2 separate regions of the Homo sapiens genome follow, and region 1 is linked to region 2. Evidence: fine-mapped expression QTL. Tissue or cell type: whole blood. Region 2 holds a variant in brackets; the other region holds the start of a gene. All regions are shown on one strand. Distances are from middle to middle.

What was found. PIP is the estimated chance that this variant, and not a neighbour inherited with it, causes the effect.
Region 1: it holds the start of UBA2, and the variant in region 2 is fine-mapped to the expression of UBA2 in whole blood (INTERVAL, PIP 0.93).

The regions. Positions count from the first base shown.
Region 1 is chr19:34,425,529-34,430,675 of GRCh38, reverse strand. UBA2 (ubiquitin like modifier activating enzyme 2) reads right to left here and starts at 2,295. Exons shown (of 17, transcript NM_005499.3): 1 at 2,106-2,295; 2 at 17-100. The coding sequence starts at 2,243. It overlaps PDCD2L (programmed cell death 2 like), which reads right to left. Exons shown (of 7, transcript NM_032346.2): 7 at 4,508-4,686. The coding sequence ends at 4,556. LOC124904695 (a long non-coding RNA gene) reads left to right here and starts at 2,312. Exons shown (of 2, transcript XR_007067232.1): 1 at 2,312-2,554; 2 at 4,275-4,570. RefSeq lists silencers at 1,798-1,957, 2,028-2,137, 2,168-2,407.
Region 2 is chr19:33,755,828-33,760,974 of GRCh38, reverse strand. All of the region lies in intron 3 of CHST8 (carbohydrate sulfotransferase 8), which reads right to left. Among named protein-coding and RNA genes, the nearest start is that of KCTD15, 38 kb to the left of the region's middle. The variant G/A (reference allele first, on the strand shown) is at 2,043.

The DNA.
Region 1 (5,147 bases), 670 kb before region 2:
TGAGAAATATAGTTACCTGTGCCTTTGATCTTCCAACATGTTTCTTTTGAAACAAAAACTGTCTGTTGAGGTTGCTTACATCAATAGTATCCAGATCAATCTACAAATGCATAAACCCCAGATAAATGACAAACGTTTACGTATGTTTGAGCTGTATCACTACTCTCAGCACCTGTAATCCAGAACTTTTGATATCTGCTACATTAGTGGAGAAAGCGTTTTTCGAATCGCCATACCAAAATTGTTAAACTGATAAAGAATAATTTAATGCATGTAAGAATCTAGATTTAATGTCAGAGATAAACTTCTCAAAAATACTTTGAAAGAATGGTATATTTTGTTTGTTTAATCATCCTGGAAAATATTTCAGGAAACTCCCTGGATGCCATAAAAATATGTGAATTCATTAAAACTATATGTGCTGTCGAGGTAAACACTAACTGAAAATATATTAACATATTTCTCTACACCGGGAGTGGTGGCTCATACCTGTAATCCCAACACTTTGGGAGGACAAAGTGAGAGAATCGCTTGAGCCCAGACCTTCAAGACCAGCCTAAGCAAAATAGTGAGACCCTGGTGGCTACAAGAAATAGAAAAAATAAAATTAGGTGGCACATGCCTGTAGTCACAGCTACTCGGGAGGCTGAGGTGGAGGATCACTGGAGCCTGGGAGGCGGAGGTTGCAGTGAGCCGAGATCGGGCCACTGCACTCTAGCCAGGGTGACAGGGCCAGACCCTGTCTCAAAAAATACTAAAGTATTTCTCTTTCAATCGAATTACTCTTTCAAGTACAAAATATTAAATTTAACTATGCCCTGTTCTTTTTCTTTGTTTTTTGAGACAGGGTCTCCCTCTGTTGCCCAGGCTGGAGTGCAGTGGTGCAAACACAGCTCACTGCAGCCTCGACCTCCCAGGCTCAAGCGATCCTCCTGACACAGCCTCCCGGGTAGCTGGGACCACAGGCGCACACCACCACGCCCCGCTAATTTTCTTTTTTTGTAGAGACGGGGTTTCTCTATGTTGCCCAGGTTCTGTTCTTTTTCTTAAATGATACATGGCAAACGTTTATTGAATTTTTGCTGCCTCCCTTAATTCAAGCCTTCATCCATACACAATTTCATTTACTATTAACCTGAGAACTGTGAAAGGAAACTTTTACACATGGTTAAAAAAGTATCATGTTTTAAGTTTTATCTAATTTTTGCTTAAATATATAATACATAAAGGAAAGAAACAATGACTCAGTCGGCCACCCGTACTTTTTTGTTCATTCCATGTTTCCACTAGCCCTTAAGACACTTTAAACTCACACCGAAGGGCCAGTAACATCTCCAATCTCTAAAAAGTTTGCATTAGTAGAAATAACGATTCAAAATAGCACTGGCTTGTCAACGTACACCAATGCAAAAGGCACAGTCCTAACGTCTTTAATGAAACAAGCGAGTGTACCGTCTACTGTGAGAGCAATGACAGTCACGCAGCCTGCGGGAGCCCTGCCACTCGCTCCGTGACCCAGGGTAAGTTACTCAACCCCATTGCGTCTCCCTTTCCTCATCTGTTAAAAATAAAGCAGGGTGGAAATAGCGTTTGCACTCCTCGGGTGGTATGAAGATGGTGCGCGTTCCGTGTGTAAACCCGCTCGTGACCAGCGCTCGGGACGCGTTGGTCGCTATCATTGCCATCCTCCGCCCCGCGTCGTTACTTCGGAGTTACGACAGGGACCTCAAAATTAAAGTCACAACATCCGCGAGGGACTCAATCCTCTCCCGCATCTCCTAACAGCCGGGAATTTGTTTTGAAGGGAGGATAAGAGGCGGCTTCACGCCCACGAAGCGCCACACATTGGCGCTGCCGGGGAGGCGGGGGCCCGCGGCCTCCTCGGCGTCCGGAGCCGGCCCAGCGAGCGGAGGCCCGCCCCGTGCCCAAAGAACAGTCTCCTCCCGCGGGGGGGGCACAACCCGAGCCTCTCAGCCTGCCCCCGCTCCGCAACTCCGGTCCCGGGCTCCGGGCCCTGAGCCTCAGAGCCCCTGGAGCCCCGGAACCCCCGAATCCCAGCCCCCGCACCACAGCCCGCCATTCACGCGCGCGCGCCCGGCCCTCACCAGGTCGATGTGGGAGAAACCGGTGAGCACGAGATTCTTGAGGAGCTCGCAGCCGATGCCGCCCGCCCCCACCACCAGCACCCGGCCCCCGGCCACCGCCTCAGCCAGCTCCCGGGGCAGCCCCCGCGACAGTGCCATGGCGGGACAACCACGAGCCGCGGCGGAGGCGGAGGCGGGAGAACCGAGCCGCGGCCGGAAGCGGGTGGGGGAAGGGCGGCCTGGTTTCCGCTCCTGCGCACTACAGCCTCCGGCAGACACAGGCAGGGCACATCGCGCCGGGGTGTGCTGCAGCCCGCGGGGACCGGCAGGCTCTTGCAAAGGGCTGGCGACCTCCAGCTGAGACCGGCGGTGTTATTCCCACACCAGCATAGGCCCGCCATCAGACCTAAAAAGTCTAAGGGTCGCCTTCTAGCCTGGGGTTTCAACTCCCAGCCAAGACTTCCTTACAGGTTAGAAAACTGATGTCCCTATACGTAAAGAGCTCTTACAAATTAACAAGTGTCACCCCCAAAAAAATATAGGCAAAGGATGTGAACAGGAAACTCACAAAAAATTGGACAATATGATCAATAAGCGTATTAAAATGTAAACCATAAAAGAATCGCTTGAACCCTGGAGGTGGAGGTTGCAGTGAACCAAGATCGCACCACTTCACTCCAGGCTGGGTAACAGAGCAAGACTCCGTCTCAAAAAAGAAAAAAATGTAAACCATGCAAAATGGTAAGATTTTCACCTGCCGGGCGCGGTGGCTTACGCCTGTAATCCCAGCACTTTGGGAGGCCGAGGCGGGTGGATCACGAGGTCAGGAGTTCTGAAACCAGCCTGACTAACATGGTGAAACCCCCATCTCTACTAAAAATACAAAAATTAGCCGGGCGTGGTGGCGTGCGCCTGTAATCCCAGCTACTCGGGAGGCTGAGGCAGGAGAATCGTTTGAACCCAGGAGGCAGAGGTTGCAGTGAGCCGAGATCGCGCCACTGCACTCCAGCCTGGGCAACAGACTCCGTCTCAAAAAAACAAACAAACAAACAAACAAAAAAAAACACCGAAACAGCTGGGGGTGGTGGCACAAGCCTGTAGCCCCAGCTACTCAGGAGGCTGAGGCAGGAGAATTGCTTGAACCCAGGAGGCGGAGGTTGCACCACTGCACTCCAGCCTGAGCAATACAGCGAGACTCTGTCTCAAAAAAAAAAAAAAGTTTTTCACCTACTAAACTGGTAGAAAGAAAAAATAAGTAACACTTATCAAGGGATTGGGAAACAAGCACTCCAACACACTCCAGGTAAAGATTCCAAAGCAAAGCTTCTCTAGAGGGCGTGGTGGCTTGCACCTGTAGTCCCAGCTACTCAGGAGGCTGAGGCAGGAGGATCACTTAAGCCTGAGAGGTCGAGGCTGCAGTGAGCTATGCCCTTACCACTGCACTCCAGCCTGAGAGACAGAGCAAGACCCTGTCTCGAAAAAAAAGAAAAAAAAACCCTAAAATTGTGCACAACTTTTGACTCATTCATTCCAATTCTAGGAAACTGTCCTGTAGCAGTTATCATTGATTTAAAATATATATAAATTTAGTTACAGGGATGGCCATCATGGGAATAAAAATTGGAAAATACAAGTGGCTAAAAATTGTATAAAGCTTTTGATGTATATTTAAAAAATAGAGCAATTATAAATTATGTTGTGGGAAAAATATTAATGGGAAAATGCTCCAAATATAATGTTAAATGCAAGAAACAAGCCCACCCCATGATCACCTAGGCCTCATTATCCTCATCTACGTAGGCAGAGCATGTCTGAACATGGCTGGGAGTGTTTTTATACTGCTGTTATGGGGCTGAAGGGAAGGGGTTGATCATGTTAAAAATAAAGAAAGGGGAAGACTGGAAGGCAGCTGGATAAAGGGACAGTCTCCAGAACGGAGTAAAGACCCCTTCCTGGGATACTGCAGGAGCAGAAGATGGGAGTGGGTGAGGGCGGGGACCTGGGCTGATGAACATGGGCAGGTCTAAACAGCCAGGGTCACAGAGCAAAAACCTCCAGCAGCTAGAGCAGGTTCAGTGGCTTGATCAGGTGCCAGAAACAGCATAGGAAGCACTGGAGTGCACGTGTCAGAGGTGTACACAAGAGGCTGACCACTGCTCTTGGCTCTTTCGCTGCTCTCCTCCCCCCTAGAATGCCCACCAGAACGGCTGTGCAGACAACACCAGCCCTCTGGACTAGAGAGGAGCTACCTTCCTAGCTGCCACTGTGACAGCTGGCCCTGGACCCTGGAAGGGCAGACCAACCCACAGTCAGGAGGTCCTGGCCCGGCCCCGGCCCCGGCACCAGCACCCAAAGGCAAAAAGGCAACTCAGAAAAACAGAGGTTAATAACTTGTGAGTTAAAATAAGGTACATACAAACATATTTGGATGTAAACATTTGTTTTAATTTATATTAATAAAAGGAAATGCTCTACTTAAACAATAATTCATCTGGGTCTTCTTGTATAATACAAAATTCTTCCATGGGAGTCTGATGATTTGGGGGCCAGCAACTCTTCTCACATGTGTAAACTAGAATTGTTCCAAATTCCACAGAAAGACCTGAAAAATACCACATATTCAGGCTTCCAGCAAAAAGAGTTATGAGACTGATGTTACTAAAAGGAATGATTTTACCTTATAAGCTGAAAAAGTAATTAGGTAAAGCAAAAACAGTGCTTACTGCTTTCAGCTATAACAGAATCACAGTCTATCCTATAATAAGTGAATATTGATAACAAAAAAGCAAAATTAATTTAAAGTGGCAGGAAAATATACTTTAAAAATAAACAAAAATTTCAGCAAGTGTTCATTATAACTGTCTAGCTATCTGATGTTGAAAATCTATATTAATCTACATGGTTCATGTGATATACATAGCTTTTGGCTAGGTGCGGTGGCTCACAACTGTGATCCCTGCACTTTGGGAGGCCGACGGGGAAGGACAGCTTGAGCCCAGCCTAGGCAACATAGTGAGACACCTGTCTCTACAAAAAACAAAACAAACAAACAAACAAACAAAA
Region 2 (5,147 bases):
TGGAGCACCTATACGGGCCAGTAGCATCTTAGGTACTGATGACAGTGTCTTAACCAGGAATGGGATAGTGTGGCCCCTGCCCTCATGAAGCTTCCAGTCTAGCAAGGAGGAGAGGCACTGGCCAGCAACTCCATGTGTGATGGCAGCCATGGAGGACTTTGCAGGCAATGTGGGACAGTTGACATGTTAGCTAGCTCAGTGTTGCAGGTGACAGCTCCTGAAGATCGTGACAATAAATTGGCACCTGAGGGTAATGAGGACATTTCTGGCAGAGCTTCATGGCCTTCCACCATGAAAGCAAGGCTCCTGGGATGAAGAGATGGGTCCAGAGACTGAAGAGTGTCAAGAAAAGGCAGGGCCAGGTACAGTGGTTTACACCTTTAATCCCAGTGCTTTGGAGGCCAAGATGGATGGATTACTTGAGGCCAGAAGTTTAAGACCAGCCTGGACAACATAGTGAGACCCCATCTCTAAAAAAAAATGAAAAAATTAGCCTGGGCACAGTGATGGGCACCTGTAGTCCCAGCTGCTCAGAAGGCTAAGGTGGGAGGATCAGTTGAGTCCAAGCGTTAGAGGCTGCAGTGAGCTATGATTGCACCACTGCACTCCAGCCTGGGTGACAGAGTGAGATCCTGTCTCAAAAGAAAAGAAAAGAGAAAGGAAGGAAGAAGGGAGGAAGGGAGGGAAGGAAGGAGGGAAGGAAGGAAGGGCAACCATGATGGCTGGCCGGCAAGAAAGAGGCTTTATAGCCATGCAAAGACACTAGACCTTACCTCCTAAGGCCCAGGAGAGTCTCAAAGAGCTTTAGGGTGTGGAGTTATTTTGAATTTAAGGACCATTCTGAGATGGAGTCAAAGATACAGCAGAAAGGTTGGTCAGGGGATTGCTGTCACTATCCAGGCAGGAGACTCTTGAGGCCTGGACCCAGGGGATGATGAAACAGTGGAGGGAGAGTTGAAGAACATTTCGGGAGATGGAGGTGTGCTGGGAAATGTTGAACACCTGACTTTCTGGGTGATGGGGTGGGAGCGGGGAGCAGCCTGGTTTGCAGTGTTTGCTGATTTCCGTGGTCTGAAATCCCATCATGGCAGATTTCAAACTACTGATGTCATGTGGGGCTGGGCCCTTGGGGGCCAGGACAAGTTGGCCTGAACTCGCCACTACATCAGCAGGACCTGGGACTGGCTGACTGCAGAGGGAGACGCTGGCTTCTGACTTTAGCAGTGGTGAATGCTGATGCTATTCCCTGCGCAGGAGGACAGATCCCTGTGGACTTTGAGGAGACCTGACTACAGGTCTCCCAAGTGCAGACATCCAGAGGGCAGTTGGAGGAGAGGGAATTAGGGGATCAGGGGTGGCTGGTCAGAGGTGCGGGGGGCAGACGTGCCTGTGGGAGCTCATTCAGCCACCTGTGGCTCTTCTGGGCCAGTGGGGGCATGATACCAGCACTTCTCAGGGAAAGAGGGGTAGAGGCAGTGGGCCTGGGCCTGGAGGCTGCCATTTTCTGGGCCCACCGGGATCCCACCCCAGGCTCTCAGCAGCCGTGACCTCACAGCACCATGCCTGGTGGGTTAAATGGGACGGATGTCAACGCCTCCTCTTGTCTGGCTGACATGGCACGTGGTGACCACTCTGCAGCCAGCTCTGCAGGAAGGCACCTCATTTGGTCTAAATAATGGTGAATTCCCATTGTGGGGTTACCAGCAAATAGAAGCAAGTGAGTCAGGCTGGAGCCCGAGGCTGGGGTGGCCCCATAAAGGGGCTGTCTTGATGTAGTTTGGACATTCGTCCCCGCCCAAATCTCATGTTGAAGTGTGATCCCCAGTGTTGGGGGTGGGTCCTGGTGGGGGGTGTTTGGCTCATGGGGGGATCCTTCATGGCTTGGTGCCATCCCTGTAATAGTGAATGAATTCTCATGAGATCTGGTTGTTGTGAAGTGTGGCACCGCCTGCCCCCAAGTCTCACCCTTTGTTCCTGCTTTCACCAGGTGACACGCACACTCCCGCTTGCCCGCTGCCATGAGTAAAAGCTCTTTGAGCACC[G/A]CCCCCCCCCGCCAAGAAACCAAGTGGATGCTGGGGCCACACTTCCTGTCCAGCCTGCAGAGCCGTGAGCCAATGAAACCTCTTTTCTTTATAAACTGCCCAGTCTCAGGTATTTATTTATAGCAGTGCAAGAATGTGCTGACACATGCCTGTTTACAGGAAAAGTGCTCCCTACCCACTGGCCCAGCCCTGAGACAGGCCCTCCAGGGGCAGACGTGGGCAGCATGTCCTTCTTCACCCTGGAATGGAGTCAGGCAGCCAGGACGGCAGCCTCATTACCACTGTGGCCCAGCTGCAAGAAAATGATCGGTCCAGCTCCAGCCGGCCTTGGGATGCATTGTTCTGGCTGCCACGTCAATTACCGAGCTGGCCTGGAGCTGTCAAGCCTGTCACAGCTGTTGCTGTGATACCCTAAAGAGCCACAAAAGTGAATCTGTCTTAAGTGATGCTTCTTTGAAGTGACCCCCACTGCAGGCCGCTCTGGCCTGGGTGGGGCTCTGCAGACACCCTGGGGAGAGTGGGGCTCCAGACTGCAAAGGGCTGCCTAGGGGCTCAGGGATGGGTGCTCTGATCCTTGGAAGAGCTCCCAGACGGCTGAGCACTGATGGTCACTGACTGTACCCACAGGGGTCCCGGAGTCTGGGTGACGGCCCTGACTCAAGCACAGTGAATGGGCAGCTACAGTTCCAGGCCCACCCCCACCCCTACACCAACATCTCCAGTGTCTTCTCTCTGGCATCTCAGGGAACACCGAGGGGCAGCTGCAGCTGAGGGGTCATCCTGTGTGCCCCCCCACCCCACCCCACCAGAACAGAACAGAGACTCTGGCAATTCACAGGTTGCAGGGACAAGGCCAGAGACTGCCCGGAGCACTCAGGGGCTCTGGCCGTCAGTCCGGCTCTTCCCTGCCGAGGGTCTGGATAGCTGCAGTCTACATTTCAGAGCTGGGGTGAATCTCCCAGGGCAGGGCCTTGAAGCTGGAGTCAGGTCCAGCCAAGGGCTGGGGCAAGAGAAGCTCTGGAAGGCTCTGGCCTGAGGATTACACCAGCTTCTTTGAGGGGTCAAACTTGAGCATAATACTGGCGTGGTGGTGCACACATGGAATCCCAGCTACTCGGGAGGCTGGGGCAGGAGGATTGCTTGAGCCCAGGAGTTTGAGCTCCCATGTTGAGTCTGGGCAACATAGTGAGATCCCATCTCTTAAAAAAAGACACCAAACCTGAGTATGGATGCCAATCTTGGGCTTGTCAGTGGCTGGCTGTGGGGACATCACCTCCCCTGGATACCTGTCCAAGAGCCCCTTTCTGCTCCCTTCTGAATGGCCGGCTCTTTCTTTCTTTCTTTCTTTCTTTCTTTCTTTCTTTCTTTCTTTCTTTCTTTCTTTCTTTCTTTCTTTCTTTCTTTCTTTCTCTTTCTTTCTTTCTTTCTTTCTTTCTTTCTTTCTTTCTTTCTTTCTTTCTTTCTTTCTTTCTTTCTTTCTTTCTTTCTTTCTTTCTTTCTTTCTTTCTTTCTTTCTTTCTTTCTTTCTTTCTTTCTTTCTTTCTTCTTTTTTTGAGACCGCGTCTCACTCTGTTGCCCAGGCTGGAGTGCAGTGGCATGGTTTTGGCTCACTGCAACCTCCACCTCCTGGTTCAAGCGATTCTCATGCCTCAGCCTCCAGAGTAGCAGGCGTGCGCCACCACACCTGGCTAAATTTTGTGTTTTCAGTAAAGACGGGGTTTTACTATGTTGCCCAGGCTGGTCTTGAACTCCTGGGCTCAAGCAATCCACCTGCCTGGGCCTCCCAAAGTGCTGGGATTACAGGCATGAGCCACTGCGCCCATCCTGAATGGCCAGCTCTTCCTCCGCCCAGCCCAGCACCCTGTAGCAGCAGGAGCCCCCACAGGGCCATGTGGGCTGACCAGGGGGGCCCCAGACCATCATGGGAGCACAGACAGCCTGTCTTCCACTGCCCCCTCACAGCCATGCCAGACGGGGCTGCCTCCACACCCCCATACCACACTCACACCTAAACCACAGGCCCTTTGCATCTCATACCTGTACAGCCTCCAGAGCCCTGGGGTGCTGACTGCAGGGTTGGGGAAAGTGGGGAGGGCGGAGAGACTCCTGAGGGTTGCATGTTCAGAAGTCATTCTGGAGGTGACTGGGGAACTTGGAGAAGAGTGAGGCCCAAAAGGAAGTGGGAAAACAAATTCAGGTTCTTACCTTATGATGGAGGTGAGGAGTGGGGACATCTGAACTTAGGCAGGTTGGGCGGGGGTAGGAAAAGGAAATGTTGGATTTTGCAGAACAACAAAGCCAGAGGGCTAGAGGGTTTGGTGAGTCAGGGGTATGAGGGGTGAGGGTGAGGGAAATGTCTGGAGGACTCCTCCCATAGCATGCTGCCAGGACCCCCAGACAGGGAGGTCTCAGGGAATGGAGGAGCCCTTGGGGGAGAAGACCCAACCTTGGCTTATGGTGAACCAGAGACAGACTCGAGCAGCACCTGCAGGTAGCAGCTGTCAGCTGGAAACAGGACAGAGCTTGGGTGAAACTGTCCATTAGCCAGATCTGGGCCACATACCTCGGTTTGGGAGGCAGCCCAGACACACACCATGCAACCTAGGCCCGCGACTTCCAGCATCCTTCAAACAGGCCCACGTCACCGCCTAACGCCAGCCTCGTTAGCTCTGAGCACGAGAATATTAAGTAGATGTAAACACTGGAAATAGCTGTTATTTTCACGATCTTCATGCGCACCTGGAATTGGCCATCATCACAGTATTCACGTTATTCAATAACATGAAGTCTTCTAAGGCAATCCGTCAGCCAAGACCCAACCCCCTTCCCGTTCTTCGCTCTCCAGCACTTTGGGGGTGTCTCCTTGCTCCAAGAGAGGTGCCATTTGCAGGGAACTGGAAGCCGGTGTTTGCCTGGGTGGGGGTGGAGGAGCTTACTGGGCTCCTGGAAGACAGTGCCCGAGGTCCCTGAATTCCCCTTTCAAGGCCTCAAACTCTTTGCTTAGCCTCTGCCTGCACATCTCCACCAAAGGCCCTGCAATTAGACCCGCCAGCTTTGCAAACGGAATGTGCTCCCATGTAATGGCTGTTGGTAGGGCGTCTGGGG